Linked DNA regions of Homo sapiens: regions 2 and 3 are each linked to region 1. The links come from fine-mapping of genetic effects on gene expression. A gene starts in region 1. Each other region holds a variant in brackets. All regions are shown on one strand. Distances are from middle to middle. Region 1 holds the start of GNPTG (N-acetylglucosamine-1-phosphate transferase subunit gamma). Region 2 holds the start of BAIAP3 (BAI1 associated protein 3). Region 3 overlaps UNKL (unk like zinc finger).

Region 1 (6,709 bases):
CCGGAGCGAGACTCCCGACTGGCCTCTGTCCGCAGTTCCGTGCCTGCCGAGGCGTGCCGCCGCCGCGCGGCCTGTGTGTTGTTCACCGTCATGGACCACGACTGGCTGTCCACCAACGACTTCGCTGGGGAGGCGGCCCTCGGCCTAGGTGGCGTCACTGGTGTCGCCCGGCCCCAGGTGGGCGGGGGTGCAAGGGCTGGGCAGCCTGTCACCCTGCACCTGTGCCGGCCCAGAGCCCAGGGTGAGTGAGCATCTGGGTGGAGGCAGGGGCAGCGGGCCTGACCCCGGCCCCCACACACCTGCCCGCGCTGCTTGCAGTGAGATCTGCGCTGAGGAGGCTGGAAGGCCGCACCAGCAAGGAGGCGCAGGAGTTCGTGAAGAAACTCAAGGAGCTGGAGAAGTGCATGGAGGCGGACCCCTGAGTCCATCAGCTGCCAGCCCCGGCCCTGGCCCCCACCCCAAGTTCCCTGAAGCATCCTCCAGCTCACTGTGGCCAGCTTTGTGCAACCAGGGCCCACGGCGCCCCTCCTGTGCTGTGACGTGTGTGTCGTGGCTGGCCCCGCGGCGCCTACCGCCCTGGCCGTGTCTGTCTGGTGTGTGCTGTGAACCCCTGCACCCAACCCCACATCTGGGTGGCCAACTTGGCAGGACTTGGCCAGCAGCTGCCCAGGACACAGTGCAGGCCAGAGCGGGCTTGACCACCTGGTGGGCCTCCCTGCCCGCTTCCTTGGGCTCCCCGGCCCTGGGTGGGCGGTGGGCAGCTGGTCTCCAGGGACTCAGTGAGTGGCTGTGCTCTCTGCACAACGGGCAATGTGCAGACGCATTTTTGGTAATCACAGCTGGGGAGTGAAAAGGGTGCCACTGGCACCACTGGGTGGATGGTCCAGAGCCTCCACCCACAGAGGGGATGCAAAGGGCAGGTGAGTCAAGAACCGCATAGGTCTCCAGTCCCCACGGGGCTCCCAGGCCGGGGAAAGGTTCCCCTGAGGTCACTCTGAGGCCAGGGACGTCACCCAAGGCTGGTGGTCAGTGTGAAGGGCTCCGTGCCAACTGGTCAGCTGTCCTTCACGCACATATCCGTGGCCACCTGAGACCTGCTCCACGACCCTTCCAGGCAGAGCCGAGAGTTCGCCCCAACCCTTCCCCAGGCCCAGTGTGAAAAACAGACTCACAAGGGGCTTCTTGGCCTGCAGCTTCATTTGCGAGAGCGCCGAGGCAGGACACAGAGCACAGCTGTGCTGGAAGTGTGGGGAGAACCCGGACAGCTCAGTCCTGCCAGCAGCCGCAAAGAGCCGAGGCTGCCAGGCCCATTTATGTCCCTCATGTCTCTAGATTTTCTCGTCACCCAGCCTCAAAAATATATGTGTCTGCAACCCTCAGTCTCTCTGCCGTTTCTTGATTCCTTTCCAAACCTCAGCCGGGGCCCTGGCCTCAGCCCCCCGTCCCTGCGTCTGCTCCTCTTCACAGCAGCTGCTGCTGGCTCCTCCGCGCTCGGCGCCAGGCCCTGGGTCCTCAGACGCATCACTGTCATCAGTGTCCGAGGGCAGCCTGGGAGAGGAGGGGGAGCACGTTCCCAAATGACGTCCTCCCTGGCTAGCTGGAGTCAACGTCATCCACAAAAAGCCCCCAGCCGAGGACAGATTCCTCTTCCTCCCTGTGCTCTCCACACCCAAACCTCTCCAGTGGGACATGCACTGCAGGTTTTCTAGTCAGAAGACCATCGGGGTGTTGTTTACAACACCACCCCCAGGCAGCAGGAAGGGCTCAGGCCAGAGGTAGAAGAGAGCCCTGGGTCTGAGTGATCATGAAATTAAGCCCAAGGACCTACCGGGTGCTGGCCACAGGCCTGTTGGGGTTTCCAAACTCTCTCCCTGAATCCACATCGAAGGGATCTGAGCCGAGAGAGGAAAGTGGCCTCTAAGTGAGCTCAGAGCAGGACCAGGCCTCCCACCCCCCAGGCTTTGGAGGGCCTTGGTTCCCACCCCGCCAAGGCTCACCGATCTCCTCCTCCTGGGGGCTCTCCTTGGCATTGGCCAAGAACTCCTGCTCCGCCTGCAGCACCTCCTCCGGGCTGCCGCAGGCCGCGTACTTGTCCAGGAGCTGGCGGTTCAGGTCCAAGAAGCCCTTGCCCCATTTAAACTTCCGCAGCAAAATGACAGCAAGGTCTGGAAAGCCTGACGGTGTGAGAAACAGGAAACCCAAAGAAGTCGACGGTCCCCTCAAGTGCCTCCTGATCACCCTGCTGCCGGATGGCGGCGCTCTCCCAAGTAACCGCAGGGTCCCCAGCAAACATCAGCTCACAGTCCTGAGAACCCGTGCTGCCCCCAGCCTGCACCTCCCTTGCTACAGTCCACACCTCTGCAACCGACCAAGTCCCCCTCCTTTGCTGCGAAACAAACATTCCCACCAAGACTGCCCCACGCCTCATCAGGGCCTCTTTAGATCAGCAATTCAGTAAGGAGGACGTGGAGGATAAGGAGGATTCTCTGGGCAGTGGTGCCCTGATAATGAATGGCACCCCACACACCGGCCCTGATAGAACAGCGATCCCATTCTGCCTCTACTGCAACTCCACAGGCCGAAAACCTGAAGTGACAGTTGGGGCTGGAACCGTGGTCTGTCTGAACTGTTCCCCTGTCCGTCCCTTATGCTCCTCCTGGGGTCTGTCGGCAGGAAACATGATGCTGGGAGCATAGCAGGAACAGCAGGCCGCCGGGTCACACTGCTGTGGGGCCCCTGGACTCACCTACGATGCAGAAGGTGGCAGCAAACGCTTCCACGCAGGAAAGTCTGTAGGGCCGGCCATAGTTCACGGGGTTGGCGGCCACCAGGTAGGGCAACAGGCGCAAGTGGCTCCCTCGCATCTTCCCAAACGGTGTCTCGTCCAGCCTGGCCCAGGAGCAGTCGATGACGGCGACCCCAGACTGCGCCACCAGCTGTCTGCCAGGGACAGCATGGGATAAGTTCAGGAGCCAGCACTACCCAAGGTGGAGCATGCCCCGGAGAATGGCCTAGCTAAGGGATTCAGGGACATCATTCCGCCATCCCCAAACACCCTCAAACGGACTTCACGAGCAAGCTTTTGAGGCAGCTGCTTGGGGCACCTGGAGCATGTGTTTATTCACTCAACAAACGTTTATTACCCCAAAACCTCCTTTATCCCAGGCTCTGCGCTACGCAACGGAGGCAAACTAGACAGACGTTCCCTGCCCACGTGGGTGTGGATGTGGGTGCGACATACAAGTGCCACTAAACCATCCCTGAAGGGAACCACGCGCTGGAAATGAAGACGACCTCGGGCAGGCCTCCCGCGCCTACCTGTCTGCGGGGGACGCGTACTGCTTGCCCACGGGGCTCAGCACCAGACCGCCGAATCTGTGGCCCAGGCGCAGGCAGCGCACCAGCCCCAGGCGGGCCAGCTTGCGGCCCGTGCAGCGCCGGGGGTCGCAGTGGCCCAACTCCCACATGGCCAGCGTGCAGGGCAGCGCCGCCGGGCCCGGGCCGCCCTCGCCGTCAGCCGCCCCTGGCTCCACGGAAGCTGCACGAGAGAGAGAAGGGCACTCGGCCTCAGCGTGGGACCCCCGGGCAGGCCCTCAAACCCTGACCCGCTCTCCCCATCACGCCTCGCTCACCCTGCAGCGCGGCGCCGACCTCCTCGGCGAAGGCCTCCAGGGAGCGCGTCGGGAGGTGCCGAGGGCGGCCGCCTTCCGCCCCCGGCCCGCGCGCTGCCCTCCTGCGGCCCATGGCGCGGACCTGGGGTGCCGGGGACTCCCCACCCCACGGCCGCGCCCCTCGGCCTCCCAATGGGCTGTGCGGCTGCCAGCGCTTGCGCCGGACGCCACTTCCGGTCCCCGTGGTCACGTGACCGTCACTTCACGTGACCGCGCGGCGGCCGCTGCGGCGCGATGGCGGCGGGGCTGGCGCGGCTCCTGTTGCTCCTCGGGCTCTCGGCCGGCGGTGAGTGGCCCGGCCGTCCGCGTCCCCAGGCCCCGCGCGCGCTCTGCACCCCGGCCTCCCCGCTCACGGTCTCGCTCCCCGTAGGGCCCGCGCCGGCAGGTGCAGCGAAGATGAAGGTGGTGGAGGAGCCCAACGCGTTTGGGTGAGCAGCCTCGCGGGCTGGCGGCTCGAGCGGGGGACGGCCCGGGCCCGTTCCCCGCTGACCTTGCCGCTTCCCGTAGGGTGAACAACCCGTTCTTGCCTCAGGCCAGTCGCCTCCAGGCCAAGAGGGATCCTTCACCCGTGTCTGGTGAGTGAGGAGCGCTGTTGGCCGGCGCGGGGGTGGCCGCGGGGAGCAGCAACAGTGGAGGATGGATGAGTGACCCTGAGAGTTACGGCCCGGAGTCTAAAGCATTGGTTTGTCAGCCTTCTAAAATTAATGTGGAAGTACGAGAGAATATACCAGAACGTTCTTGTAGCGAATTAAATTATCTCCAGACTTAGTCCTTCCTTTCCTTTCCGAGAGGTAACTGCTGTTAATAGTCTGGTGACTTTGCAGACGCGTTTCTGTGCTTTTACGTGCGTGTCTATGCAACTGGAAAACGTATAGTTTTTGTAATCTAATCGCTTTTTTAAAAAATCATGCTGCGCGAGTATTTGGCTGATTTGTCGTTGTCACTCGCTGTATCTCTCGGGACGCTTCATGGTGATGATATAGGTCTTCGTTCTTTCTCTTGGTGCTCAGCACGCGATAGGATGGCACTGCACTCCCCGATTGTATTTAGGTTCTTGCCATTTTTTTGGCCATTAGAAATAGTTCTGTGGAGAACATGCTGTGTAGGTGCTTTGGTTTGCCCTCAGGTGAGCGGTTTCCCAGTGCAGGATTCCAGAAGTGGAATTGGTGGGTCATGAGTATATATATCATTTAAACGCTGAATGAGTATTAAATATAATAGACAAAAATCCAAGAATTTTTTTTTTTTTTTTTTTGAGACAAGAGTCTCGCTCTGTCGCCCAGGCTGGAGTGCAGTGGCACGATCTCGGCTCACTGCAACCTCCGCCTCCCAGGTTCAAGCGATCCTCATGCCTCAGCCTCCCGAGTAGCTGGGATCACAGGCATGCATCACCATCACGCCCAGCAAATTTTTGTATTTTTAGTAGAGATAGGGTTTATTTCACCGTATTGACCAGGCGGGTCTCGAACTCCTGACCTCAAGTGATCCGCCCATCTCGGCCTCCAAAAGTGCTGGGATTATAGGCGTGAGCCACCGCGCCCAGCTTTAGTAATTTTATTATCGAATACCTTTATGTGTTAGGGTCTGTGCTGGGGTTGCAGAAACGAACACAGATATACCAATGCTTGTCCTCATGGAGCTGACAGTCTAATGGGGAGGGATGGAGGAACAGGCACTGAGCCTGTAGAATTAGATAAAATACATAGAATGGCCAATGATGAAAAATGCCATGTAGATGTGTGAAGCAGAGGAGGGAGTGTGTGTATGTGTGTTAGAGTATTGTTTGGGGGATCGCTTTTTTTATTTTTTAGAGACGGGGTCTTGCTCTCTCACTCGGGCTGGAGTGCAGTAGTGCAATCATAGCTCACTGCATCCTTGAACTCCTGGGCTGAAGCAATCCACCAACCTCAGCTTCCTGAGTAGCTGGGACTACAGGTGCACGCCACCATGCCCGGCAAATGTTAAGTGTTCTTGTAGAGATGGAAGTCTCACTATGTTGCCCAGGCTGGCCCCAAACTCCCAGCGTCAAGCAATCCTCCTGTCTTGGTGGGGATTGCTTTAAATAGGGTGCTGAGGAAAAGTCTAAGAAGTGACATTTCAGCCAAAAGCTAAAGGAGAAAAGGGAGTAAAGCTGTGGCTATTTGGGGAAAGGGATCCAGGAAAGGGAGTGGCCAAAGGCCTTGAGCAGGACAGCCAGGGCCAGAGGGGATTCAGCTGGGGTAGCCACAGATCAGAGATAAAGGGGATCAGATGGTGCCGCACCGTGTTGGTAGGTTTGGTGGACTTTGACTCCAAACACATCTTTTTAAGTTTTTTGTTGTGTGGCTGGGCGTGATGGCGCACCTGGGGTTAGGCTCACTTCCCTGCGGCTCAGAAGCCATGGGATGGTGGCTTCCCAGGGCCTGAAGTGCTGGAGTCGGGCCACCACCTATCCCAAGAAGCTGGGGAGGAGGCAGGCCACTGTGTAACAGCGCAGTTCCCGACCGAACCCCTTCCAGTAGGAGAGAGGCAGCCTTGGCTAATGGGACCACGTCTTTTTGGAGGTGAGAGTCCTGGAAAGAAAACAGAATATGCTGGTCGTGGTGGTGCGTGCATGTTGCTCGGGAGCCTGAGGTGTGACGATCGCTTGAGGTCAGGAGTTCGAGACCAGCCTGGCCAACATGGTGAAACCCCGTCTCTACTAAAAAAAACCACAAAAACAAAAGTTAGCCGGGCATAGTGGTATCCTCCTGTAATCCCAGCTGCTTGGGAGGCCGAGGCTGGAGAATTGCTTGAATCCAGGAGGCGGAGGCTGCGGTGAGCTGAGATCATGCCCCTGCACTCCAGCCTGGGTGACAGAGCAAGACTTCGTCTCAAAAAAAAAAAAAAAAAAAAAAAACCCATAAAAATTTAGAAAAGAATACCTCTTCTAGTTTTCCCACCCCCATCCCCACATCAGGGCCAGTCAGGTTCACATGTGCATTTGGTTCATTATGTGTCTTTAGTGTTTTAATTTGGAACAGTTCTCTTCCCACCTTTGGATGTAAGTGGCACATTTG
Region 2 (7,590 bases), 20 kb before region 1:
CCCCCAGGGCTTTGTTCTGGTCCTGCTTCCAGCCCCACGTCAGCCCCTCCGGGTGACATCCCCTCTAGCCAGCCTCGGGGTCTCTTCACCTGCACCTCCCTGGCCTGCTCTACGGGTCTCCTCCCTGGGACTCAAGGCTGCTCTTGCTGTCCCTGGCAGGGGACCTCCTTGGGGAGCAGGGACCCCAGGTGTCCAGAGAGCTCTCCTCACAGGGCCCATCCAGGGCTGGCTGGAGCCACCAGGTAGGAGTCTGGTGCACAGGTGCAGGGACCCCAGCCCCCTGCGGGACGGGCTAGCCAGGCCTGAGCTGGCGCCGGGGGAGACCTCCCTTGGCTTTGGCAGTCGGGCTAGCCACAGGTGCCCTCCGTCTCTCAGGTCCCTTGGGACCTGGGTCTGGCTGGGCCGGAGGAGGCTAGGAGACTTGGCCACCATGCTGGCCGCTGCCCGCAGGAATGCAGGCTCCTGGCCAGGCTGCTGGTCCCCAGGTCGCCTCACCTTCCTGGACCTGAGGCCTGGCCCCGCCATCACTCACTGGGATCCGCTGATGGGAAGCCTTCCTCATGATTACCATGACGACAAGTTGCCAGGTTGGAGGGCCTTGCACTGATTCGGACTGGCTGGAGCTGGTTTGAGCCAGCTCCAGCAGGGAGGGGCCTGGGAGTGCTGGGTTTGGGATCCATCCCCAGCCGACCCTGATTCTGGGTCTGGGAGTGTCCTGAAGCACCTGCTCAGGAGACACAGCCTGAGATCCCCAGGCACCACCTGGTCTGAGGAAGCCATTGGGCCCAGTTGGGGTGGGGGCTCCTGGCTTTGGCCCATTGGGTGGGAAGGGGCTGGGGCAACTGGTCCCATCCACCCTGCCTGTCTCTGGCCCAGCCTGGTCCAAAGGCTTCTGCACCTGCCAGGAGATCGGCTTATCCGGCTCTTAGGAAGAAATAGGAACAGGCACAAGAAAACCACCGAGCACGTGTGGCTTGGGCTCTTCCTTCCCTGGGCCTCTGCCCTTCCTCCAGGATGCCCTCCGCCGAATAAGGCAAGTTCCCACTCCTCGATGCGGGCTGTGCCTTATTTATTTATTTAGAGATGGAGTCTCACTCTCTCGCCCAGGCTGGAGAGCAGTGGCATGATCTCGGCTCACTGCAACCTCCGCCTCCCGGGTTCAAGCAGTTCTCCTGCCTCGGCCTCCCGAGCCTGGGCTGTGCGTTTAAGGAGGGACTCTGAGGCCGGGCGCGGTGGCTCACGCCTGTAATCTCAGCACTTTGGGAGGCCGAGTTGGGAGGATCACCTGAGGTCAGGAGTTCAAGACCAGCCTGGCCGACATGGCAAATGCCCATCTCCATTAAAGATACAAAAATTAGGCCGGGCGCGGTGGCTCATGCCTGTAATCCTAGCACCTTGGGAGGCTGATGCGGATGGATCACAAGGTCAGGAGTTCAAGACCAGCCTGACCAATATAGTGAAACCCTGTCTCTACTAAAAATACAAAAATTAGCCCTTTGAGGAAGACGTGGTGGTAGGTGCTGTGAATCGCTGATCCGCACGCTCCTGCTCCTGACTCACCACTGTCCGCTCTCGCCAAGGAACAAGCTGGTCAGGAAGCCACGCAGCAGCTATGGCTTTATTATTATTTTTTAAAAATTTATTTATTTTTTGAGACGAAGTCTAACACTGTCGCCCGGGCTGGTGTGTGGTGGGGCGATCTCGGCTCGCTGCGGCCTCCACCTCCCGGGTTCAAGCGATTCTTCTGCCTCAGCCTCCCGAGTGCCTGGGACTACAGGCACACGCCACCACACCTGGCTAATTTTTGTATTTTTAGTGGAGACGAGGTTTCACTATGTTGGCCAGGCTGGTCTCGAACTCCTGACCTCGTGATTCGCCCACCTCGGCCTCCTAAAGTGCTGGGATTACAGGTGTGAGCCACCACGCCCGGCCTAAAAAATTCTTTTGGCTTTTAAGGATACCAGAAAAACACCCAAGGAGCCGGAGATGGCAATTCACCAAAATTCACCAAATTCACCAAAATTCACCAAATTCGCCAAATTCACCAAATTCACCAAAATTCACCAAATCTGAATCACTCTAACGAGCTACAGCATAAAATCACTTGAAAAGGTGTGTGCTGACTTGATCAGAGGCACAAAGGAAAAGAATCTCAAAGTGAAAGGACCGGTTTGAATCCTACCAACACTTTGAGAATCACTACAAGAAAAACTCCAGATGAGGCCAGGTTACAGCTCACGCCGGTAATCCCAGCACTTTGGGAGGCCGAGGCGGGCAGATCACGAGGTCAGGAGATTGAGACCATCCTGGCTAACAGTGAAACCCCATCTCGACTAAAAATACAAACAAATTAGCTGGGCATGGTGGCAGGTGCCTGTAGTCCCAGCTACTTGGGAGGCTGAAGCAGGAGAATGGCGTGAACCTGGGAGGCAGAGCTTGCAGTGAGCCAATACCGCGCCACTGCAGTCCAGTCTGGGCGACGGAGCAAGACTCCATCTCAAAAAAAAACTTATAAAAAAAAAAACTCCAGATGAGCATCCATAAGCAACTCATTGACTTGCACAGTCCTTCTGAGATTGTTAAGCAGATTACTTCCATCAGTATTGAGCCAGGAGTTGAAGTGGAAGTCACCATTGCAGATGCTTAAGTCAACTATTTTAATAAATTGATTACCAGTTGAAAAAAAAAAACAAAAAAATACAAAAATCAGCTGGGCATGGTGGCGGGCGCCTGTAGTCCCAGCTACTCGGGAGGCTGAGGCAGGAGAATCACTTGAACCCAGGAGGCAGAGGTTACAGCCGAAATCACACCACTGCTCTCCAGCCTGGGCAACAGGGCAAGACTCCATCTCAAAAAAAAAAAAGAAAAGGAGGGACTCTGAAGCCCCCAGAGCTGGGAGGAGTCGCCTCCCAACCCCAGCTCTGCACAGAAGGATGCACACTGAGGGCCTGGCCTCTCCCTGCTGGGCCCCTAACCACAGTGAGCACAGAAGCCCATCTCGCTGGGAAGGGGCCTCTGACACCCCCACCCTCAGGCTGGTGGGAGGCGGGGCCAGGGGACAGGGTGCCATCCTCCCTGCCATCCAAGCCTCACCGCAGCAGGGGCTGTCCTGCCTGCAGGGCTCTGGCACACCAATGGCCTTTGTTTGGGGGCTTGGTAGGACCCTGTCTTGGGCCCACTTCTTTGTCCCTGCCCTGCCCTGGACCCCTCACAGATGCTGCTACTAGCACGGAGGCCTGAGAGAACTCCAGCGTGACACTGGGTGGTCACCTCCAGCCGGCCCCACCTGTGCACGCGTGGCAGCAGGACTCCCGGAGCTTCTGGTGTGGGATCTGGAGACCAGCATCTCAGGCATGAGGCCAGACTTGGGCTGAGGCCCTCCCACCCAGAGCCCCTCTCTTGATGGGGCAAGGAACAGGTTCTGGCAGTCTTCAGGGTCCTCCAGCTCCGGGGCAGGCAGGGTCCCTGGCCAGAGTCCCTGGGCTCTGACCCCACGAGCTCTCCAAGGACCCTGCCCTTCCTTGCTTGGGTCCTCAGAGGGAAGTTGGGGGCAGATTCTGGGAGGCTGTGCCTGCAATTTCTAGGGCTGCCACCAGAGGGTGGTAGCACTGGGCCCTGCGCTGTGCTCATGAGCGTGGAACAGGAGGGGCTGTCTAACTCTGCCATGGCCTCACCTGTGTGCTTCAGCGGCTTTGGCGCCTGCGTATCCAGAGCCTGGTGTTTTTACCTGCCCCCCCATCTCCGCCCCCCGCCACCGGCCCGGCCCTAAGGAGGAAAAGCTACTCTCCCTGCCTGCCAGACCCTTTCCAGCACAAAGTCCTGAGAATGTGAAAAGAGCCAGGCTTGAAAAATGGCTTTTCTCAGCTTTGCACAAGCAGCCCTGGTGCCCCAGCAGCCTCCTCAAGCTCTGACCCCGTCTGGGCAGGGGGTCTCGTGTCCCGACACATCGGTGGGAGGTGTTCCTGCACCTGCGCCATCCCCTCACTGTCCCCGGAGCACGGCAGCTGTCTGCACTCCGGTCCGAAGGCAGAGACGCCAGGGTAGCCCCTTCAGAGTGAGGCCTGGGGCTCAGGGTGGGGAGGGTGGGCGGCCCACTCTCCTGCCCTCTCTCTTAGTGGGAGGGGACTCACGCGAGGATGGGCTTCCAGCCCCAAGCTATGGAAAGGTAAATTGGGTCACTGGAGGGGCCGGAGTTCTGGCTGGGTGGCTGCAGTTCCCATCCCCACCAACTGGGACTGAGGCTGACCTGCTGTGAGTTGAGACTGGCTCACTGAGGTCCCCCAGCTGCACCCAAGGTGGGTGCTGCTGTTGTCCCCATTTTACAGAAGAGGGAAACTGAGGCCCGGGCAGTGGAGGGTCGCCCTGGGGCAGGGGTGAGCAGGGTGCTGGGACTTTGATCCAGGTCAGCCTGTCTTCAGCCTCAGAACAAGTTGGAGAATGAAGGCCTTGGTCACTGAGTGGGGTGTCGCTCGGATCGTTCATTCCTCGACTCCTCACCAAATGTTTGTGGAGGGGACAGTCCTAGTGACCGTCCTCTCCTGGGGAAACGGAGGCCCAGGGCTGGTTTGGGACTCAACCTATCACTATGTGGCCCTGGAAAAGCCCTTTCCCGTCTCCGGACTCCAGTCTCCCTACCTAGAAAAGAGTGGGGAGAGGTCTCCAAGGGTGCTCCCGCACCCAACGGACTGCAGTGTTGGTTTCAGGGTTGGTGCTCTCGTAGGGGCCGGAGCAGCGGCTGCCCCTCCCAACTTCCTGTTTACCGTAGCTGCAGAGCCTGTCCCTTCA[C/A]TTAAAGCCAGTGTGATCACCATGGCAACCGGCCTGTGTTTGTTCCAACAGGTGGGCAGAACCTGGTGCAAGACCGCAGAGGCAGGGGCGTCACTCCCAGACCCGGTCTCCAGACCCACCAGCCCCTCAGGAGAACACTGCTACAGAGTGGGGCTGAGGGCCCAGGCCCCCTCCCCTGCTTCCCCCACCGCGTCCCTGTCCCAGCCAGTCCCTGCATTTCCTGCAAGCTCCCTGCCCTCCCCCACCGGCCTGGCTGTGCTGGGTCAGGATCCGGCAGAGCCTGGGCCGAGCGTCCCGAAGGAGAGCCCACCCAGGGGTCCTGCCCCCGATCCTGCACAGACAGGTGTGGGGCGGGCATGGATTTGAGTGAGTTGGGATCCAGAAGCCAAGACAGTTGTTGGCAGACGGGCCCCCTCCCTTTGAAGAGCTGTGTTCTGGAAGCCTGTCTGGCCTTGGGCTGCCCAGGTGCCCTTCGGGTGAAAACTCCAAAGTCTGACCACCCCCCACCCCTTGTCCCCAAAGGGCTGCGAGTGTCCAGCTGTATTCGACCAAGGGCAGGTGCGACCGGGGGGCCGCTGCGCCCTCGGCAAGTCTGAGAGCCTCAGGCCCCCGACAGGACCATGCTTAGCACGGACTTCTCAAAGTGTGGTCCCTGGACTGGCGGCAGCAGACTGGAGCTGGGAAGTGCAGGCGCTGGCTGGCGTGGGGACCACACCTGTGATCTCAGCGCCTTAGGAGGCCGGGGAAGGGGGATCCCTTGAGCCTGGGAGTTTGAGACCAGCCTGGGCAACATAGGGAGACCCCCATCTCCACAAAAGAAACCAAAAAACATTAGCCGGCGGGTGGTCCCAGCTACTGGGGAGGCTGAAGCGGGAGGACCACTTGAGCCGGAGAGTTCGAGGTTGCAGCGAGTGGAGATGGTGCCACTGCGCTCCAACCTGGTTGAGAGCTATTTTTGAGAGCTTTTTCGAGACTCTGTCTGAAAAAAAAAGGGAAAAAACGCAGATCGCGCCCCCACCCAGACTTCGGGACCAGCGGGTTGGGGACAGGACCCATCAATGCCTTAACAAACCCTGCAGGAGACCGCGGGCCCGCTGGGGTTCCAGGACAGCGCAGCGGAGGAAGAGCGGGGAGCCACCCGGGAGGGGCTGGCGGGGTCCAGTGCAGACCCCAGGGGCTCCGGGGGCTCTGGCCGGCTGTGACCCCACAAGCGCCAACTGGGCCCTCACCAGAGCCCCAGGGACGATCGCCCCACAGACCGTCCGCGTGGGCGTGGGGCGTCCCGAGTGGATCCCTGCAGGACGCATCCCCGCCCCGAGAAGAGAGCGGCGGGGCCCGCGAGGTGTCCCTGAGTCAGGCCCTTCCAGAAAGGTCTGCACCGCTGCTGGTCTTCGTGACCGTGGCTTCCCTGGGGTCCGCGGAGGAGACCCCGCCGACCACCCCCTTCTAGACCCCACGCGCCACGGGGAGGGCGCGCGCGGCCAGGCGGGGTCCCGAGGCAGCCAAGCCCGCTCCCCGTCCCGCAGCCACCTGTGGGTTGACTCACAGCCCCGCATCCCGGGGGAGGGGGCTCCGGCCCGGCTCAAGGCACGGAGACCCCGGCCGGGTCCCCTAAGGCGCCGTGGACGCGGGGGGCGGGGCGAGCGCGGTCAGGCCCCGCCCCGGTCAGGCCCGGCCCCGCCCCCAGTCAGACCCCGCCCCCGCAGCGGCGTCCGCCCAGCAGTTGCTCAGTCGTCGGCGCGCGCGGCTGGGAGCGGTAGCTGTGCCTCGGCGTCCCCGAGCTGGTGCCGAGCGCAGCGCCCCAGGAGCCCCCCCATCCCCGCGCCGGCCCACGGTAAGTGCCGCGGGCTGCGGCCAGTGCTGTTGGGCCGCCGTCTGGGCTCGGCCCCGCGCCCCAACCCGGACGGACCGACGGCCGCCGCCCCCTTGGTCCGGGTCCCCCAGGAGGCACGGGGGTGGCCTCCGAGGCGGGGGGCGGTGGGAAGGTCTCGACGTCCCCTCGGCCCTGGGGAAACTGAGGCCGCGCATGCTTGGAGGGGCGGGGTCTCGGGGGCATTTCCCCTCCGAACGCGCAGGAGAGGGTGCGGCGGTGGGGTCCGCACTGCGGAGCGGACGGGGAGGGTATCCGGGCGCTGGCGACGGCCTCCCCCGCACTTGAGCCGCCAAGCGAGGCTTCGACCCCCGCGCCTCCCTCCCCGGGGGAGCAGACGGGCCCGGGGCCTCCCAGCACCCCTCCCGGGCGGGCTGCACCCCCCAGCGTCCTCGTCCCTTCCCTCCTCCCGCAGGTCCTCGTAAGGCCCTTTAGTCCCCCCGAAATCCCTGCGAGTGCAAAGCGGCCCCTCCTTCAGCCCCACTCGGCAAAGGGCTGTGGGCTCTTGCCTGGGCCGGGGTCTCCGGGGGAGGAGTTTAAAGTGACACACTAGACCCGCCCCCAGACTCACCCCGGACCGCCCGCCCCCTCCGAGGGGAGAGACCCCCATAGAACTGGGGGTGTGGCTCCTGCGGGCGCCCGGGGCCCCGGGAAAGGGGGTGCCGCGAGGCGGGGCAGGGAGGGGGTCGGTGAGCAGAGGGAGGAGGGAGCGCTGCGCAGACACGGGCGAGGGGAGGAAGAAGGCGCCTCGGGCTCCGGTCTCCTGCGCTCCTGCTGGGCGCCAGCGGCTGGACCTTGGCAGCCGTCTGAGGCTTCGGGGAGCCCAAGGCCACCGGCAGCGCTTGTTAGAATGCAGATTCCCGGGGTTCGACTGGAATGAGACCCCGGGGAGCAGCGTTTGCAGCGGGCCCGCCAGGTGACCTGCACCTGGGCAC
Region 3 (11,007 bases), 39 kb after region 1:
ACAAAAATGACGATTCTGTAACATGTCCTGAAATAGAAGCGCTGTCCCTGAAAAGCTACAGCATGAACACAGAAGGAGGTCAGGGAGAAAGGAGGACGGTGCTGGACTTACCGAGGACGGCCTCCACAGTGCTGCTGGCGGGGCCGAGCGGGAGGGCACGGGCGGGGGGCGCGGGCAGCGCAGTGGGGGAGGAGCTGCCGGAGCCGGCGCTGGACGCCAGGCTGGACGCCACGCTGGAGCTCACGCTGGGGGCCGGCGGGTGGACCGCTGCAAACACGGCCAGGTGGTTCTGTTCAAAGACATAAACACCGTGAGCGCGCACCCCCTGCGTGGAGGAGGCAGCGCCACGTCGGCACCCTGCAGAAAGCACCGCGGGACGGCGGCCAACTTCTACGCCCTGGCGAGGCCCAGGGAGAGCTTCCCAGACCCGGAGGGACTCTGACCGCACCGAGGAGAAACACCAGGACGGCAGGGCAGCGGGCTACGGTGCACTTGGGACAGGCACAGACACCTCTGGGGAGTGTCTCGTGAGCTTTTCTGCAGAAAACGTTTCAGGAGTAGACATTTGCCAGTAAAAATCAATCTGGCACGTGCAGAAAGATGTGTCAGCGGCCAGGAGCCCGCCAGCCCGAGGGGCAAGCCGTGCAGCCTGCCTGCCCTTCTCCCCACACCTCCTGGGTGCCCCCGCCCCGGCTCTCGCCCAGGACTGGCTCCTGAGCACCTTGGGGGGCCCCCAGAGAAATGTCCTCCCAGGGACTTAAAAAGAGATCCAGCACCACTTCCAAAACATCCATAGCGTGGTCCTGTGACCTCGTCACCAGGGAAAGTAAAACACAGGGCAATTCACATGATCTGTATTTGGTGGATAATAGATCAAAAGAAAAAGAGCAACACACAGAGCAGTGCTGAATAAAAACCCAGTAACGGGGAGGGTGCTGCTCACAAGAAAACACCCGACACAAAAGACCCAGAGCCACCTACGAGGTCACTGCAAAACCAAGCATCAAAAGCTGGATTAGAATGAGTTTCTGGCTGGGCACAGTGGCTCATGCCTGTAATCCCAGCACTTTGGGAGGCCAAGGTGGGCAGATTACTGGAGGTCAGGAGTTCGAGACCAGCCTGGCCAACATGGCGAAACCCTGTCTCTACTAAAAATACAAAAAAAATTAGCCAAGGCCGGGCGCGGTGGCTCACACCTGTAATCGCAGCACTTTGGGAGGCCGAGGTGGGCAGATCACCTGAGATCAGGAGTTCGAGACCAGGCTGCCCAACATGGAGAAACCCCATCTCTACTAAAAATACAAAAAATTAGCCGGGCGTGGTGGTGGGCGCCTGTAATCCCAGCTACTTGGGAGGCTGAGGTAGGAGAATTGCTTGAATCCGGGAGGCAGTGGTTGTGGTGAGCCGAGATCGCACCAATGCACTGCAGCCCAGGCAACAGAGAGACTCTGTTTCCAAAAAAAATGAATTGCATCCTGAAATATTACAATTCAAATGGTATGATATCTGGGTTTTGCTGCAAAGTAATGCAGAAAAAGTTAACCTTGGGAGGTGTGATTTTACTAGTTTGTCTCCTTAAGTAAAACTGTCCATAATGAAGAAATTTTAATGTGCATTTCCTAAAGATCAGAAATCCCCGACAAGAACGCGCCTGGCTCCTGGCTTCTGTGACCTAAGGGTCCTGCTGCCTGCCCTGGCTTCCTTCTGGATACCAGATTTGCCCCTCAGCCCACGGCCCAGGAGGTGCACAGAGCCCCCCGTGACTGACTCTGAAAACAGTCCCCTCCAGCTGCAAAGTCTGGAGACAGCCACCAGAGCTCCCTGCCCAGGTGCGAGAAGGGGCCTGCCCCCTCGTCCATAATCCACTTCCTCTCCCTGGCCCAGAGACCACTTTTCCTCAAGCCATGAAAAAACGGACCACAGTCCACCCCGTGAGCATCAGGGACGGCGGTAACTCCTGCACCCTACACCGCAGACCCTCCCAGCCATGCAGCACCGGGGACCCTCCCAGCAATGCAGCACCGGGGACCCTCCCAGCCATGCAGCACCGGGGACCCTCCCAGCCATGCAGCACCGGGGACCCTCCCAGCCATGCAACACCGGGGACACTCCCAGCCATGCAACACCGGGGACACTCCCAGCCATGCATGGTGCTGCCAATACCCCCTATCAATCCCCCATGGTGAGCCTGGTGACAGGGTTGCTGGAAGCCTCATGTTCTCCAGCAAGCAGCCCAGAAACACTATGGGTGATTCGAGACCTGGTGCCATCTCAGTGGCAACCCGCCCCCTATCCCTTGCACTTCCTGTCCCTGCTTCAGACCCTCAGTGTGGCCCCAGGAAGGCTGAGAAGGACCTCTTGACAGACGTTCTGGTGACCAGACATCCAGGAGCAACGCACACCTGGGAGCTCCTTGTACCCCGATGGCTTGGATCGGGGAGGGAGCCGACCTTCTCTACCAGCAAAGGACAGGGCCACCTGGGCTGTGGGGCTGAGGAGGCAGGCACCAGCAAGGGGTGAGTGACGTGGGGCGGTCTGCTGAGCTCACCGCATCCAGCAGCTATCACTCAGAACCAAAAGCTCAGGATGGCAACGCACGGCCCTCCGGGGACGTGGACACTGCACAGCCGCACGGCTGCCCGGCCCTCCGGGGACGTGGACACTGCACCGCCGCACGGCTGCCCGGCCTGCGGAAGCCCTCCCCCACCCCCGCCTCATCCCATCTCTTGGCAGCCCACCCTGTGTCCCGGGGTCTGCCCAGGTCCGTGCTCTGGGGCACGGTCCCTACACACAAGCTGCCCCTGCTCAGTCAGGCTGAGGTTCCCCATGTCCTGACCCACCAGTAGCCTAGAGGCCACCGCCCGGGTCACAGTCACCCCTGTGGATGTCCTCTCAGCTCCATGACCCCTGTGGGCGTCTCAGTCCTTGCCTGAACCCAACTCCAGAGCATCACCCAGGCCCAGAGGCCACCTCCCATGTAAGGGAGAGCTGAGGGACTGTTGCCTGGAAGGGCCCCGGGCCCACCAAGAAGCCGTGGACGACGCTGGGGTTTGCAGAGCAGGCCTGCCCCGCCCTGGGTCGGACAGGGAGTCTGTGCCCCGCACCTGTGTCTGCATAGAGCCCAAGAATGCAGAAAGCCAGGAGGCACCACAGTGCAGGTGCCACGTTTGCCCCCAAAGCAGCACTGATCTGAGGGCTGGGCACGGGCTGACCCTCGGCTGGGACAGGCAGCCTCAGGCTCCCAAAGCGCTGCCCGGCCCAGGGTGAATGCAGCACCCTCAGAAGCCAAGGCCGCCTCCTTCCCGCCTGTCTGCAGGAGGGGACTCCACCCCGGAGGCCTTCCCCAGCCTACTGGAGGCCATAAACCAACAGGGACCAGAGAGGAAGCCTCAGCCCTGAGTGACCCCCCAGACCCCATGCTGACCCTGCCCGGGAGCTGGCCAGGGTGATGCGCACACTGTGACTTCAGCCCAAACGATCACCTGAAAATCATCAACATCCATGTCACTCCTTGTACCCCAAGGCACAATGGCCACAGATGACGGGCCTGGTGTGGGAGTCCATCCACATGAGGGATGGGCACAGTGAGAGGGGTCAGACGAGAGCTCCGTGAGGATCCCGCACCTTCACTAACACCGGCACCGTTCTCCCCGTGGGGACGCCACACCTCCGCTACCACCAGCACCGTTCACACCATGAGGACACCGCACCTCCGCTAACACCAGCACCGTTCGCCCCGTGGGGACAGCACACCCCAAGCTACCACCAGCACTGCCTGCCTGGTTTTTCTTCTCTGTATTATAGTGAAATATAATATAAAATTTGCTACAGTGGCCATGGTTTGGTGTAGTACGTGGCATGAATTCCATCCACACCGCTGTGCAGCCATCACCGCGTCCACCTCCAGAACTCCTCATCTTCCAGCCGGAAGCTCTGACCCCGTGAACACTTGCCCCCTCCCCCGGCCCCGGCCCCGGCCCCCACCATGCCACCTGCTGTCTGTGAATGTGACTCCACTAGAGACCTCCTGTGAGTGGAATCACGCAGGTTTTGCCTTTCGGTAACTGGCTCATTTCAGTCAGCACAGTGTCTTTGTTATGGACCAAACGTGTCCCCCCCAAATTCCTACGTGGAAGCCTTGACCCCCGGTGTGACTAAATTTGGAGATAGGGCCTGTGAGGAGTAATTAAGGTGAAATGAGTTCTTACTCCAGGCGTGGAGGCTCACACCTGTAATCCCAACACTTTGGGAGGTCAAAGCAGGAGGATTGCTTGAGCCTAGGAGTTCGAGAACAGGCTGGGCAACCCCATTTCTAAAAAAATACAAAAATTAGCCAAGCCTGGTGGTGTATGCCTGGGGTCCCAGCAACTCAGAAGGCTGAAGTGGGAGGACTGCTTCAAGCCTGGGAGTCCCGGGCTGCAGTGAGCTGGGACTTGGCCACTGCACTACACCTGGGTGACACAGCCAGACCCTGCCTCAAAAAATTTAAGAATCTGTAAAAACACAACAGCAACAATGAAATGAGGTGTGGGGGCAGGGCCCTACGCAGCCACTGTCCTCAGGAAGAGACCCCAGGGATGCCCACGCACAGAGGGGTGACCCCAGAGGACACGGAGGAGGCAGCATCTGCACCCGGGGGGCCTCAGGAGCCAGCTCTGGACAGCTCAAGCTCGGACTCAGCCCCCAGAACTGAGAGAGTCAAGTGCTGCTGCTTGGGGATTGGTTTTGGTTTGGTTTGAGACAGGGCCTCACTCTGTCGCCCAGGCTGGAGTGCTTGGCTCACTGCAACCTCCACCTCCTGGGCTCCAGCAATTCTCTTGCCTCAGCCTCCCAAAGTACTGGAACCACAGGTGTGAGCTACTGTGCCCAACTAAAACTACCTCATTCATTCATTCATTCATTCATTCAGAGACAGAGTCTCACAGTGTCACCCAGGATGCAGTGCAGTGGCACGATCTCGGCTCACTGCAATCTCCACCTCCCGGCTTCAAGCAATTCTCCTGCCTCAGCTTCCCGAGTAGCTGGGACTACAGGCACGTGCCACCATGCCTGGCTAATATTTTGTATTTTTAGTACAGATGGGGTTTCACCATGTTGGCCAGGCTGGTCCCGGACTCCTGACCTCGTGATCCGCCCACCTTGGCCTCTCAAAGTGCTGAGATTACAGGTGTGAGCCACCGTGCCCGGCAAGTTCTGCTGTTGGAACGGCCCCATCTGCATCCTTCCCTCGCAGCCCAAAAAAGTAACACAGATGGGCTCCAAAGGGCCCCTCTTATTTCCCCGAGCACGATGTTGTGGCTTTGTTTCCAAGGTATAACACGAACGTTTCAAACAGACAAACACGGGGGTACCAGGAAAGAGCTAATTCTACAACAAGCGGACGTCAACCAGATGGCTTTGCGAGCCGAGAGTGGGCGGGACCAAGGATGCATGAGCGCTGCCCTAACGCGATGCCACGGGTCAGGCACGAGGGCGGGAAGCCTCAGCCCTAACGCGACATCAGGCACGAGGGTGGGAAACCTTGGGGGCCTGTACCTGCTTGCTGTCTTGCTCGCTGCCCCTAGGGCCA[C/G]CCTCGGCCGGCGAGTCTCTCCGCTTGGCCTGCAACATAAAAAACAGTCATATGTGGAAAAAGCAGGGAGGAAATGTAAATTAAAAACATACAATTCAGGCTGGGCACAGTGGCAGCACTTTGGGAGGCTGAGGCGGGCGGATCATCTGAGCTCAGGAGTTCGAGACCAGCCTGGCCAACATGGTGAAAACCTGTCTCTACTAAAAACACAAAAAATAGCCAGGCGTGGTGGCACATGCCTGTAGTTTCAGCTCCTCGAGAGGCTGAGGCAAGAAAATCGCTTGAACCCAGGAGGTGGAGGTTGCAGTGAGCCGAGATGGCACCATTGCACTCCAGCCTGGGCAACAAGAGTGAAACTCCGTCTCAAAAAATAGAATAAAAAATTTAAAAAAGGATATCGCTTGAACCCAGGAGGTGGAGGCTGCAGTGAGCCAAGGTCATACCACCGCACTGCAGGCTGGGTGATAGAGTGAGACTCTGTCTCCAAAAAAAAATACACACACACACACACACACACACACACACACACAATATATATGTACCTATTCAGCAGTACTCTTGGTCCCTTAAAGATACACACACACACACACACACACACACACACACACACACACACACATAAGCTCTGCTCAGAATTTAGACGAATGCTATTTTTGGTTTTGTTTTGTTTTGAGACAGGATCTCGCTCTGTCTCCCAGGCTGGAGTGCAGTGGCATGACCTCCCTGGCTAAAGCAATCCTCCTGTCTCAGCCTCCCAAGAAGCTGTGAGCACAGGCATTTGCCAGTGGACCCAGTTAATTTTTCAAAGCTTTCTGTAGAGACAGGGTCTTGTTATGTTGCCTAGGCGGGTCTCGAACTCCTGACCTCGAGCGATTGTCCCACCTCAGCCTCCCAAAGTGCCTGGTTTACAGGCGTGAGCCACTGCAACTGGCCAAAGATGCCAAATCTCGAAGGTCTCATGAAACAGAAGAGATGCCTGAACCTGCTGGCTCCCTGTCGGTTCTCCTGAGTTCCATTTCTTTTCTTTTCATTTTTTTTCTGAGACAAAGTCTCACTCTGTCATCCAGGCTGGAGTGCAGTGGCGCGATCTCAGCTCACTGCAAGCTCCACCTCCCGGGTTCAAGCAATTCTCCTGCCTCAGCCTCTGGAGTAGCTGGGATTACAGGCGCACGCCACCACGCCCGGCTAATTTGTGTATTTTTAGTAGAGATGGGGTTTCACCATGTTCATCAGGCCGGTCTCGAACTCCTGACCTCAGGTGATCCACCCGCCTTGGCCTCCCAAAGTGCTGGGATTACAGGCGTGAGCCACCGCGCCCGGCCCTGAGTTCCATTTCTTACATTTGAACGTGGCTCTCTGACCTTGGGTTGGTCCGTGTGAAGGCAGGGTGCCAGCTCTGCACTCCCTGAACCAACCATGGCATCAAACCCCAAACCGAGCCATTCACCTAAGGCAGAGGCTCAGGTGAAACTGTTAAGAAATATATGAAGGGAGTCAGAGTGTGCCACCCCAAAACATGCCACTCTTTGACAAAAAGATTATTTTGAGTTGAAGGCAGCTGAGAAACAGTAGATGCAGGAGCAGCTCTCTGCTTCCTTCCTGCCTCGAAGCCGGGCGTGAATTCCCTCTGTGAAGGTGTCCTCTCCCCTCTCCACACCAGGAGGAGAGACTGCAGATTGAGGCTGCATAACCAACCTCACTGAAGTTGCTCTTACCTTCCGCCAGTCTCCCCCATAGCCTTACCTTCCTAGAAGCCCAACCCCCTCTTCCCCCCTCTTTTTTTGTTTGAGATGGGGTCTTATTCTGTCACCCAGACTGAAGTGAAATGACGGGACCTCACCTCACCACAACCTCCGTCTCCTGGGTTCAAGTGATTCTCCCGCCTCAGCCTCCTGAGTAGCTGGGATTACAGGCACCCACCACCACACCTGGTTAATTTTTGTATTTTTAGTAGAGATGGAGTTTCACCATGTTGGCCAGGCTGGTCTTGAACTCCTGACCTCAGGTGATCCACCCGCCTCAGCCTCCCAAAGTGCTGGGATGACAGGCGTGAGCCACTGCCCCCAGCCTAGTGGCAAGGATTTTTCTAGACTCTTCTAGAAGAGCCACGAACTCCACAGACTGCCCACGACCACATTGCTGAAAACTCATATCCATCCACATCCCTAAGAGTTCAATTAAACCAAAGGACACTGGGCATTGTCCTGGGAAGGCCGTTCACTTACATTTCCCGGCTGGCCGCTGCCCGTGGAGGAAGGACTCGTGAGGTGGAGGTCGTGACAGCCCCATTCATTCACCATCCCCAGGCTCTCTGCAAGGACAGGGGAGCAGCAGACTCTGAGGGCCGCTGGTGGGCGACAGTGACACGCAGAAGTCTCCGCACCACACGTCAGGGCCGAGTGTGCGCAGCCTCGTCACAATCATCCCTCAGGGGTGCGGCAGAGGACGGCTGGGCAGTGGTGGGGACACTCAGGGCAACAGGACCCTCTGGTCTTAGACCAGTTTTTCATGTTTTTAACACTAAAAGCAATGTTTAAAACGTGAACAAGAATAGCTGCCCTCCCCACTAAAATAAAAAACAAAGGAAAATTTGAGCTTGTGACCACACACACAAAACCTGGAACCCAAATCCTAGGGCTGGGAGGAGGAGGCCGTGTGGGTTCCCACTGAACCCAAACCCCAGGGCTGCGAGGAGGAAACCCACTGCAGCGTGGAGGAGGCCGCATGGGTTCCCACTGAGTCCAAACCCCAGGGCTGCCAGGAAACCCACTGCAGCGTGGAGGAGGCCGCGTGGGTTCCCACTGAACCCAAACCCCAGGGCTGCCAGAAGGAAACCCACTGCAGCGTGGAGGAGGCCGCGTGGGTTCCCACTGGGGCTTGTTTCTGCTGCTGGGAACTTATTAGGGACCACATAATCGCCAAAGCTAAGCCCTCATCCCCTGGACAGCAAACGGGCTCTGGAAAGCACAGGGTCACCCTGAGCAACCCTGCTTGAGGGTCTCTGCTGTCTCCCCGAGCTGGGGCGGACAGACCCCCTCTCTCCACAAGGGAGGTGGTGCTCCTGGGTGGGTGCCTGGCAAGATGGCAGTCTCGGAGCAAGGCCCAGGCAGTGGGTGGCAGAAGGACCCAGCTTGGATGCCCAGGAGGCAGGTGGAGGTGCCAGCCAGCCCACACCAGGACTCAGCCTCCAGGCTCAGGGCCCCAGCGTGCCTGAAGACAGGGTCCCTGCAGATTCCACCAGGCCTGGCCCACGCCGGCGTGGAGGGAGCCCAGCCTCACATGGCACAAACACCCCAGGGAGCCTCCACGGGCATGTCAGGGACCCCCAGCCCCCAACCACGGTGCTGAGCTCCTGCCCGCCTTCCAGGTCCTCGTGGGCAGCTCCGGGTCATCGGTAACTCCAGTGAGGGCCTGCAGAGCCGCGGAACCTGCTAAGGTGAACCTGCCACAGGGACGGTTACTCACTCTCAACGTGTGCAAAGGCACAGAAGGGGCCGCGCGGGCAGTACCCGGTTTGGCGCATGTCGTTGCATTTTGTAGATTTGTAGATCTGGGGAAAAAAGTGAAATAAAGAGGTTGGATTGGAAATGGGATTCTGTGGAAAGACCACAGCTGGCATCATCCCAAGGGAGAGGATTAAGCTCCAAATCGTAACAAGACACCCCTGAAAAGGGGGGCGTGGGCCCTGCCCTCCTCCACGTGTGCCCTTGGTCCCCACATCCCTCCTCTCTGCAGAGCCGACCCACAGGGAACACGCACACATGTGGGGCCATTCCCGCAGCATCTGCCCTCCCATCACAGGCAAAGTCATTTCCCCGCTTGATATTTTCTGAAAGATGCACCAAATTCAGAGTCTGGTATGCAGCAGGTGCCTAATAAGTGCCTATTAAAAGGAACACGTGTGTCTGTTCCCTGATCAGACCCACTGACCCTTCACCTAGGGTGACAGCCCCTCTCATGAGGTCAACAACACTTAAGACCCGGCAAGGGACAGACCAGCCTGGAAGCCCCCAGTCGGCCTTGGGAGGCCTGGCCCAGCCCCTCCTGCTCCGTAGCTCTCCGTAAAGGACACGGCACCTGGCACGCCAGGCCTCCAGTGCCCACACCTGCCTGGGTCCCAGCAGGAAGCCTCTCTCCTGACCTCCGGCCTGGCCCCACCCCCCCATGGCCCTTCCACCACGTCGGGCACCCGGTGGGGTCCCGTTTGCTTGTTCATTTTGTTTGTTTTTTGAGAGAGAGTCTCGCTCTGTCACCCAGGCTGGAGTGCAGTCGCAAGATCTCGGCTCACTGCAACGTCCACCTCCCGAGTTCAAGTGATTCTCTTGCCTCAGCCTCCCAAGTAGCTGGGATTACAAGCATGTGCCACCACACCTGGCTAATTTTTGTAGTTTTAGTAGAGATGGGGTTTCGCCATGTTGGCCAGGCTGGTCTCAAACTCCTGACCTCGGCCCCACAAAGTGCCGGGATTACAGGCGTGAACCACCGTGCCCGGTCTGTTCATTTTTTTTTTTTTTTTTTTTGAGCCAGAGTCTGGCTCTGTCGCCCAGGCTGGAGTACAATGGTGCCATCTTGGCCCACTGCAACCTCTGCCTCCTGGATTCAAGCAATTCTCCTGCCTCAGCCTCCTGAGTAGCTGTGACTACAGCCATGAGCCACCAAACCTGGCTAATTTTTGTATTTTTAGTAGAGACGGGTTCACCATGTTGGCCAGGCTGGTCTCGAACTCCTGACCTCAGGTGATCTGCCTGCCTCGGCCTCCCAAAGTGCTGGGATTACAGGCGTGAGCCACTGTGCCTGGCCTGTTTGTTTTTAATACAAATCTGAGTATGGTCCCTTGGCAACTACACGGCTGGGTGTGAACACAGCCTCCCTGTACCGTCCATACCCTGCACCTTCTAGTGGAGGCACAGGCCTGGCTCCATCTCAGGCTGCCCCTTCCGCCCCAGGAACCTCCTGCCTCGGAAGAGTCCTTGTTTACCTGGGGCGGGGCCCAGGCGGGAGGGTTTATCTCCCTCAGGATTTATGGTGCGGCTGTGGCCCACGTGGTGCCAGCTCCACTCAGCTGGGTACCAGAGACTGGGGTCTGCAACCAGGCCTGCGTGACTGAACACAGAAAACGCCCCGGACACCGGACTCCCGACAGGCCCCTGGTGACACCATTGAGTGTGTGGTCACCGACACCCAGAAAGCATGATGCGCGTCTGTGACAACATGAGTCAAGAAACGACGGGAAGCAGCGCCTGGTCCTTCCCAGCCCCTGCACGCCTCCCCCTTGGCTGAGGATTTTACTTTTTTTAGATAGAGTCTTGCTCTATCCCCCAGGCTGGAGTGCAGTGGCGCACTCTTGGCTCACTGCAACCTCAGCCTCCCAGGTTCAAGTGATCCTCGCGCCTCAGCCTCCAAGTAGCTGAGACTATAGGCGCGCACCACTACACCTG

Evidence for each region. PIP is the estimated chance that this variant, and not a neighbour inherited with it, causes the effect.
Region 2: its variant is fine-mapped to the expression of GNPTG in whole blood (TOPMed, PIP above 0.99).
Region 3: its variant is fine-mapped to the expression of GNPTG in whole blood (TOPMed, PIP 0.91).

What each region holds. Positions count from the first base shown.
Region 1 is chr16:1,348,061-1,354,769 of GRCh38, forward strand. GNPTG (N-acetylglucosamine-1-phosphate transferase subunit gamma) reads left to right here and starts at 3,871. Exons shown (of 11, transcript NM_032520.5): 1 at 3,871-3,957; 2 at 4,042-4,099; 3 at 4,179-4,246. The coding sequence starts at 3,906. BAIAP3 (BAI1 associated protein 3) reads left to right here. Exons shown (of 34, transcript NM_001199097.2): 33 at 36-241; 34 at 319-1,379. The coding sequence ends at 422. It overlaps TSR3 (TSR3 ribosome maturation factor), which reads right to left and starts at 3,818. Exons shown (of 6, transcript NM_001001410.3): 1 at 3,633-3,818; 2 at 3,319-3,538; 3 at 2,747-2,940; 4 at 1,998-2,174; 5 at 1,829-1,892; 6 at 1,180-1,548. The coding sequence starts at 3,744. The coding sequence ends at 1,377. RefSeq lists a silencer at 3,396-4,095.
Region 2 is chr16:1,327,131-1,334,720 of GRCh38, forward strand. BAIAP3 (BAI1 associated protein 3) reads left to right here and starts at 6,515. Exons shown (of 34, transcript NM_001199097.2): 1 at 6,515-6,619. It also overlaps the pseudogene RPS20P2. RefSeq lists an enhancer at 4,643-4,692 and silencers at 5,469-5,669, 6,405-6,564. The variant C/A (reference allele first, on the strand shown) is at 4,786.
Region 3 is chr16:1,385,097-1,396,103 of GRCh38, forward strand. It overlaps UNKL (unk like zinc finger), which reads right to left. Exons shown (of 15, transcript NM_001372107.1): 7 at 9,035-9,119; 8 at 7,795-7,880; 9 at 5,536-5,598; 10 at 112-289. Among named protein-coding and RNA genes, the nearest start is that of UNKL-AS1, 18 kb to the right of the region's middle. The variant C/G (reference allele first, on the strand shown) is at 5,570.